Linked DNA regions of Homo sapiens: region 1 is linked to region 2. The links come from fine-mapping of genetic effects on gene expression. A gene starts in region 2. The other region holds a variant in brackets. All regions are shown on one strand. Distances are between the middles of the regions. Region 1 overlaps SARS1 (seryl-tRNA synthetase 1). Region 2 holds the start of CELSR2 (cadherin EGF LAG seven-pass G-type receptor 2).

What was found. PIP is the estimated chance that this variant, and not a neighbour inherited with it, causes the effect. A credible set is the group of variants that fine-mapping cannot tell apart.
Region 1: its variant is the best candidate, but not a certain one, in a credible set for the expression of CELSR2 in whole blood (TOPMed, PIP 0.64).

Annotation. Positions count from the first base shown.
Region 1 is chr1:109,221,532-109,225,531 of GRCh38, reverse strand. SARS1 (seryl-tRNA synthetase 1) reads right to left here. Exons shown (of 11, transcript NM_006513.4): 2 at 1,484-1,554. Among named protein-coding and RNA genes, the nearest start is that of SARS1, 9.6 kb to the right of the region's middle. RefSeq lists an enhancer at 1-158. The variant T/C (reference allele first, on the strand shown) is at 2,359.
Region 2 is chr1:109,246,816-109,251,336 of GRCh38, reverse strand. CELSR2 (cadherin EGF LAG seven-pass G-type receptor 2) reads right to left here and starts at 1,798. Exons shown (of 34, transcript NM_001408.3): 1 at 1-1,798. The coding sequence starts at 1,257. RefSeq lists silencers at 151-341, 1,440-1,539, 1,700-1,759 and an enhancer at 1,761-2,481.

The DNA of each region.
Region 1 (4,000 bases), 26 kb after region 2:
GTGAATGACAACACTCACAATCCCATCTTCTTGCTTCAAAAAATACCCAGCTGGCACTGACTGTACATAGGTCCCAAAGAACACCCAGGGAGGAGTATGCATGGGAATTAACATAATTATGGGGCCTCTAGTATGCGAATGACTAAGTCCCACAGAAAGAAACTGGATGATTATCAATATCACTTTCCACAGCTAAAAGTGTTACACGCTGAAAGTGTAACAAAATATTGTCAAAGAGAAAGATGCCGACTGCCATGAAGTTAAGTGTAAGGTGCTAGAATCCCGAGGTCATCTTTTTATGCTCTTTACTGGTGCAGTTCCAAAGTTCTATAATTTTTTGTTGTTGTTGTTTAGTTTTGAGGTTTACAATGTAAAAGTTATCTAGATTGTAAAGTGCATTTAATTAATTAATTTATTTATTTTGGAGACAGGGTTTCACTGGAAACCCAGGCTGGATGGAGCTCAGTAGCGCAATCTTGGCTCACTGCAACTTTTGACTCCTGGCCTCAAGTGATCCTCCCACCTCAGCCTCCTGAGTAGCTGGAACTACAGGCACAGGCCGCCACGTCTGGCTAATTTTTTTGTTTCATTTTATTTTTGTAGAGATGGGGTTTCACCATGTTGTGCAGACTAGTCTTGAACTCCTGAGCTCAAGCAATTTGCCCACTTTGGCTCCCAAAGTGCTGGGATTATAGGCGTGAGCTACTGTACCCAGCTATAATATGTAATGTAATATGATTAAGGGGCTAAACAGGTATTTTTGAAGGAAGGTTAAAAACATGAACTATTCTGGATACCAAAGCAAAAGCTGAGCTGAAACATAGTATTTTTCAGGCATAGGAAGGATTTTTTTTTTGGATGAAGGCCAGTAACATTACTTGCCATTCATTATAACTCACAATTGCTGAACAACTACATGTTCTAGACACTGTGCCAAATTTTCTACATTTAAAAGAAATTTAGTTCTATCCATAACCATTGCTTGGCGTTTAAATTAAAAAAAAAAAGTTCTAACAATTCCATTCTGTAGGTGAGTGTTAGTATTGTCATTTTATAAATGAGAAAACTGAGGCTGAGGCATTAACTTGCCTAAAAGACACATAACGTAGCAAGATTTGAACTCTGAATCTGTAGTTTTCATTATGGAGCATAACTACGCTGAGACGACAAATCTGAAATCTGCCATAAAAAAGATGACTGGTGGAATTTATATTTCTAATATAAGAACAGAATAGACAACAAACAGCTAGACAACAAAGAATCTTACCTGAACACAGAAGATGGACTTGTGGTAAAGTATATGAAAATGCCTCCAAGTTCCCTGCCTCCCTATCTTTTTAAAATAATATTTTCCCCTTTGGTAAGAAATTGAACATCTTGTAGACTTAAACACTGAGTTAGAACTTCTGTGAACATTAGCTAAGAGCAAGATCAAATATCTCCGCTCAAGTTCTCATGGCTGTTTGTTATTCAGTTCTCTTACCTTCATTTTCTCTCCGATTGTCTTGCTGCATAGGTTCTTCAGCTTGTTCAAGTTGTCTGCCCGAAATCTACCTAGGAATAAAGAATCCAAGACTATACCAAAGAAATGCCCATAATTAAGATACTCCTTTCTCCTGATCTTGACTTCTTAGTACTGATTTCAGGTTAAGGCCCAAATGCCGGCAGAGCTGAAGGATCTGCCTCATGAAGTTATAAAATCTTACAGCTTTTTATTTTTATTTTTTGAGACAGCATCTTGCTCTTGTTGCCTAGGCTGGAGTGTAATGGTGCAATCTCGGCTCACTGCAACTTCTGCCTCCCAGGTTCAAGCGGTTCTCCTGCCACAACCTCCCGAGTAGCTGGGATTATAGGTGCCCGCCACCACACTCGGCTAATTTTTGTGTTTTTGGAAGAGACGGGGTTTCACCATGTTGGCCAGGCTGGTCTTGAACTCCTGACCTCGCCCTCCCAAAGTGCTGGGATTACAGGCGTGAGCCACTGTGCCCGGCCTAATCTTAGAGCTTTAGAGCCCCAAATGTAGTTGGCATACAATGGTGACTACAATAGGGTGTCCCCAGCATTTGGTGACAAGGAAAAGACCAATCTGAGGTTAAAATTAAAAAGTATCATAACCTGTATGAAGCCATTATAGAGTAACACATCTGAAAAACTTGGAAGACACTCAAGTAACTAACCTGCCCAATTATCTTAAAACTCATTTAAGGAAACTAGGTGCTATGCACAGGAATCTATAGAGAGTGCAGTCATGATTGCTACCTCTCCATGCTAGAAATGGCTAATGATACCCTTTTACTTTGATATAATGCTCATCTAGCAGCCTTGAGAATAATTTAGTCTCTTATAATTTGGTTTCCT[T/C]TGGGGGAAGACAGGCACTAACTGGTCAACATATTGGCCCAAATTAATATATTGGTATCATGGATCATCAGTCTAACTCTGATTAGCAAAATTTGGACCTCTTGAATCTAAACGTCAGGGGCAATATGATAAAAATTAAGCACAAGGTTTTTTGTTGTTGAGACAGGGTCTCACTCTGTCACCTAGGCTGGAGTGCAGTGGCACGACCTCAGCTTACTGCAACCTCTGCCTTCTGGACTCAAGTGATCCTCCCACCTCAGCCTCCCAGGCAGCTAGGACTACAGGTGTGCGCCACCACACCCAGCTAATTTTTTTATTTTTATTTTTGTAGAGATGGAGTTTTGCTGTGTTGCCCAGGCTGGTCTCAAATTCTTGGGCTCAAGCGATCCACCCATCTTGGCCTCCCAAAGTGCTAGAATTACAGGTGTGAGCCATGGCATCCAGCCAAACTCAAGCTTTTAAGAGGCAAAATTGATGACTAGAAATAAGATAGCACCTAGAGAGCCATTCTTTAAGGCTTTACCAAGAAGCTTTCCTCTTTGATACCTCTTTAACAAAACTTCAATGCAAAATGATATCACTATTTTCTCATTCACTTATTCACATTGATAAAACTATAGAGATGGATAATAGATTAGTGGTTGCTAGGGGTGAGATGGAGGGCAAAGGGAGTAGACTACAAAGAGATAGCAAGAAGGATCTTTGTGGTGATGAAACAGTTCTGTATCTTGAGCATGGCAGTGGTTATACAAATTTACACATGGTAAGATTGCACAGAACTACACACACACATGTGTGCAAAACTGGCAAAATCTGAATAAGGTTTGTGGATTGTAGCAATGTCAATTTCTTGGTTTTAATATTGTACTAGAGTTATATAAGATGTTATCATTGGGGAAAACGGGACCTTTCTACTATTTTTCCAACTTCCTGTAAATCTATAATCGTTTTGAGATTCCCTCCTATTTGCAAGGCACCAAGGTAGGTATTGGGAGTATAAAAGAAAATAAGGCCAGGTGTGGTGGCTCATGCCTGTAATTCCAGCACTTTGGGAGGCTGAAGTGGGTGGGTCGCTTGAGCCCAGGAATTCGAGACCAGCCTGGGCAACGTGGCAAAACCCTGTCTCTACAAAAAAAAAAAAAAAAAAAAAAAAAAAAAAAAAATATATATATATATATATATATATATATATATATATATATACACACACACAAAAAAATTAGCTGAGCATGGTGGTGTGTGCCTGTACTCCCAGCTACTTGGGAGGCAGAGACTGCAGTGAGCCAAGATCATTCCACTGCACTCCAGGCTAGGTGACAGAACAAGACTCTATCTCAAAAGAGAAAAAGAAAAGAAACAAAAAGAAAATAAAACAAAACCAAATATTGTAACAATGCTGAATGTTTCAATCAATGAATATAGTATATCCCTTCATTGTTTTTAATTTCTCTCAGCAATGTTTTGTAGTTTTCAGTATATGAGTCTTAAATGTTATTTATTAGGTATATCTCTATGCACCTGGTGCTTCTAAACTGTTACTTGTATATAGAAGTACCTTTGATTCTGTGTATTGTATCCAGTTATTTTGTTAAAGTTATTTAATTGTAATAGTTCAGATTCTGCATACACAATCAAGTGATCT
Region 2 (4,521 bases):
GAGTACTGGGGCCCCTGGAGTCACATCCTCCCTCACCTGGACCACATAGCGCTTCTCACTAAACTGGGGGGCATTATCATTGTCATCCTCCACAGAAAGGAAAACAGCGGCTGTGGTACTCCGAGGACCCGGGTCCCGACCCTGGTCACTTGCCTCTACCGTCAGCTGGTAGGATTCCACCTCTTCCCGATCCACAGGGCCACGGGTTCGGATCACCCCAGAGCGAGGGTCGATCTCAAAGACTTCAGAGGGGCTGCCCCCAGACCCCTCCAGCAGGCGGTACAGAATATTGGCATTGGGAGGGGCATCACCATCCGTGGCCCTGACAGTGAGCACCTCATAGCCAACCTCCAGGTTCTCCCTGAGGCTCTCCTTGTACTCCTGCTGCTCGAACACAGGGTCATGGTCATTGGTGTCAGTAACCAAGATGGTGAGTGTAGCCAGGGCACTTCGTCGGGGCATGCCGTGGTCCTGCGCCGTGACCCTGAAGACGTGGGTGCTCTTGGTCTCACGATCCAGCTCCTCGGCTGTGGTTACTGCACCAGTGACTGGGTCCAGGGAGAAGAACTGGTTGGAGCGGCTATCAAAGAGGGCATCCATGGTGTACTCCAGTCGACCTGCCTCACCCTCGTCCGGGTCGATGGCCCTCAGGGATGCAACAGGGGTGCCTGCTGGCTGGTTCTCCGGCACTGTGGCCTGGTAGCTGGGGGGCTGGAACTGGGGGGCTGTATTTACATTCCTTTTCCGACGCCCACCCAGGGACTCTTCTGGTGACCTTTCCCCTGCCCTGAGCCCGGGGGCCTGTGCCAGCTTGCAGGACTGGCATCTGAGCCGTGGAGCCTTTAAGCACGGGTGCTCCTCGGGCAGTGTGAGCTTGCCCTGTGGGGAAAGGTGGCCTCCAATGCCCAGGAGGCGACAGCTCCAGGGGCAGCCTTCAGGAGCTGGTGGTAGGGGAATATGGGCCTCGGATTCTGGACACCAAACCCTCAGGCCATCGTGGTGGGGTACCAGGTGGCCAGTCAGCTCAGTGCCCGCATCCCTGCAGCGGCTGGTGTAGAGCCAGAGGTTCGACGCTGAGGATGGACAGAGCCAGCCCATGGGGGCGCAGGCCCCCGAAGAGCCTCGTCCCCTGGACCCCAAGGAACGACAGGGCCCCACTTGGTCTCCCAATAGTGGCGGCGGCAGCAGCAGCAGCAACAGCAGCAGCAGCGGCGGCGGCGGCGTTGGGAGGGGGACGCCGGTGGCCGGGCTCCGCATCTCTCCCAGCTCCCGGCCGGCGGCCGGGTCAACGGCGGCGGCGGCTCCTCCTCCGGCTCCTGCCGGCCCCGCCGCGCCTCATGCCCGGGCCAGGGCGCCAGTCCCCGGGGGCCTCCCGTGCGCCCCGCGGGGCCTGCGTCTGGATGGCTCGGCGGGACCCCGCGCTGCACCCTCCGACGAGCCCGGGCTCCCACTGCCCCCTGAGCCAGACCCGCTCCCGGGTCACCCTGAGCACCGCGGGCTGCCGCCGCGCCTCCACCTGCGCTCCGGGCACTCACCACCTGCGCCCGGGGGCCCCGCGGCGCCCCTGGCCTTGCCGGGCCCCGGGTTCCGGAGCCGGGGTGCCCCCTCCGCCCCTATGGGATCGCCCACCTGCGCCCGCGTAGCCGTGCGCCCCGACCCCGGCCCGGCCCCGGCGGCCCCCGACGGTCCCGCGCCGCCCGCTCGCGCCCCGCGTCCCCGCCGCGGCTGCTGCCTGTCGCCGCGGCCCCGGGCCCAGCCCCGCGCTCCCTCGCCTCCCCGGCGGGCGGGCGAGCTCTGCAGAGTCGCGGCGGCGGCTCATTACCATAGACCTGCTCGCGCCGCGGCCGCCTTAAAGCGGCAACGCCGGCCGCGCTGGAGGAGGTGGGCCCCACCCAGAGCACTCCTCCGCCCAAAGCGCCAGGATTCCCTCCAGCAGGACCCTCCATCCCAATTTCCCCAGGCCGGCCTCGCCAGATGCCCGGTGCGAATTAGCGATCGGAAGCCACACAGCCGATGATAATCATGGTGGAAGTACCCTAAGTATGCCTAGAGGTTTCCAAAACATTTTAAGGGCTCTCAGAGGCCAAGTTTCCAGTTCATTCCAGTCATAAAAGCCCTCGTTGCTGTCCCCTCCCATAGGTCAGACAGAGTTAAAAGGGCCCTGAGCAACACAACAAAGCCTCCAAAATCCCAGAGAAGCACCCACAATGAGTCACCGGGCCCACTCGCTCCCTACCGTCCCCTCCACCCCACCAGCGAGGCTGTTGTCTGACCAGCATGCCCCTTGGGGTCGGGCTGTTGGAAGAATGACCCCAGCCTCATGTTGGACACCACTTGGGCTTTTCCAGGGAAGTAAATTAGAAGGGTCAGAGTGGGTGGAAGCCAGGTGGTGCAAACACACTGTCACCAGATTCGGAGGCCGGCTGCGGTGGAGCCTAGCTTTAACACAGGCTTCCTGGATTCTAGACAAGGGGCTTACACTGCCCCCTGAGGTCCTGTCTAGAGAGGCGGCCTCTCATCCCCTCCTGCCTCCCTGTCCATGTCCTGCGGCTACCCCCTCCTTCCGCCACAGTTTTGTGACCAGCGAGGAGGCCTACCTGGTACCCGGGCTCCTGACCCTCTCCAAGGCAGCTTCATTTGAGAGGGTGTGCAGGATTCCAGGGGTTCTCCAAGAGGACCAGACATGAAGCTGGACCACACGGAGAGCCAGGCAGGAGCCGTGCAGGCGACCCAGAAAAGGCTTCCCTACATCCTGGAGCAGCCAGGGGCCCAGTCAGGTAGTCCCTGGGGGGATGCCCTGGCCTGGGGGGATGCCTGGGCCTGGGTCCCAGCCTCCAACACCACAGCTATGTGACCTTGCTCAAATTCTGTGCCTCAATGTCCCTTTTTGTAAAATGAGGGGATTGAATAAGGTGAATGGTTCTCAAATGTTTATTTAGCAGTAGAATTCTTTTCTTCAAAAGAAATCTGAAGTGGAAGGCCAGAATATAGAACAGATGAGTAGTGCTGCTGGGTTGAAGTGAGGGGGTCAGGGCCTTGCCCCTCTCCACCACTCCCCCAACCAAGAAATCCCTGGGCTGCTCTGTGCAACTTGAGGGTCTGGAGGAACCCATCTGAAAAGCACTGGATCAGGTGCTCCCTTCTACCACTGCCCCCGGTCACAGTGGTGCCACTCTCACTGGGTCACAGCAGAGGATCCCCCAGCCCCAGGCCCAAGGAGTGTCTGTGTGACCACACAGTGAGGCCAAGGATGAGAAATCAGCTTTTCTCTTTTCCCCTGGGGAAACAGGAAAGGAGATGGGCCTTGGGTACAGCAAGAAAGATTAGGGTTAGACTGTGCTCCTGGCAGGATGGATAGAAGTAGGAGGAGGACCCATGGCTCAAGGAAATGCCCTCCCCTTTGACCAAACAGGAGCTTTCTTCCTCTGAGCAAGGCCAAGGGCAGCTCTGGAGATGGAGGCGTGGGTTACACGCCTCCGCAGGGCTCTGCCTCTCTAGACTTCCTCAGACTCTGGAGTTTGGAAGGATCTAGGGGCTGCGTGGGCATTTTGTTCTTCACCTAATAGCCATGTGGTGCAGAGAATGCTTGGAAATTATACCATCTGTTAATTATCCTTTGAATTGGGGTTGGGTAATGAGACTCTCATTTCTGGTGAAGGCCCAAGCCAACCCGTGGAGAAGCTGCAACTCTCCATTCATCTCGCTCCCTTTGTTGCTAAAATAAGCTTTCTGGGTGGGAGGAAAGAGTAGCCCTGGCTCTGGATCACGGAAGGTGGTTCTGGGGCCTTGCACCTTGAGGCAGGGGTTGCCAGGGAAGGCATGAGCTCAGAAGCCCCTTCCAGGTGGGTGGCCTTTCCACCCAAAGGCAGATAGGTTGGGGGATCCAAGGAACCCTTTCCTTCATCCCCAAGCACATTTGGCAAATAGTCCTTAATCCTCCCCAGTCCTCCCTCCGGGGGCACAGGACAGAGCTCTCTCCCCATCACTTCCTCAGATACTTCCAACTCCCAAAAGCAGGAGGGAAATTTCCAAGTTTCATATGCATCACTGAGAGTCTCAAATGAGGGAGGGGTTGCCCTGGTGGAGGCCTCCCTGATCCCCAGGGAAGGGCTGCCTGCTTCATGGAGCTTTCCAGTTGTAAGGAACCTATGGACCTCCCTCCTGTGTGTAAGGGACATTTAGGCCTCCCTTCTGCATAGCTTTTAGGTGCTATCAAGGGGCAGCAAGGGCTTGGGGTCTGTTAAAAGAGAATTTATTGTTCTTCTAGTCCAAACCTCCCACTTCACAGTGGAGGCTCTGGGAAGGAAGGAAACCTGCTTGGCTAGCCTTGCGGCTGTCCTTTAGCTCTGGTGGGATTTCCTTACTCAGGTTGCTTCCTGAGGACCCCCTGGATAAGGCATGGCCCTGGCTTTCAACACAACAGGGTCGCATGGGTGAAGTGCTCCAGAAGCAACTGAGAGAAAAGGCTAAAGGAATTCAGAGGACAGAGCAGTGAGGGTGGAGGAAATCCCAGAGGGCCTC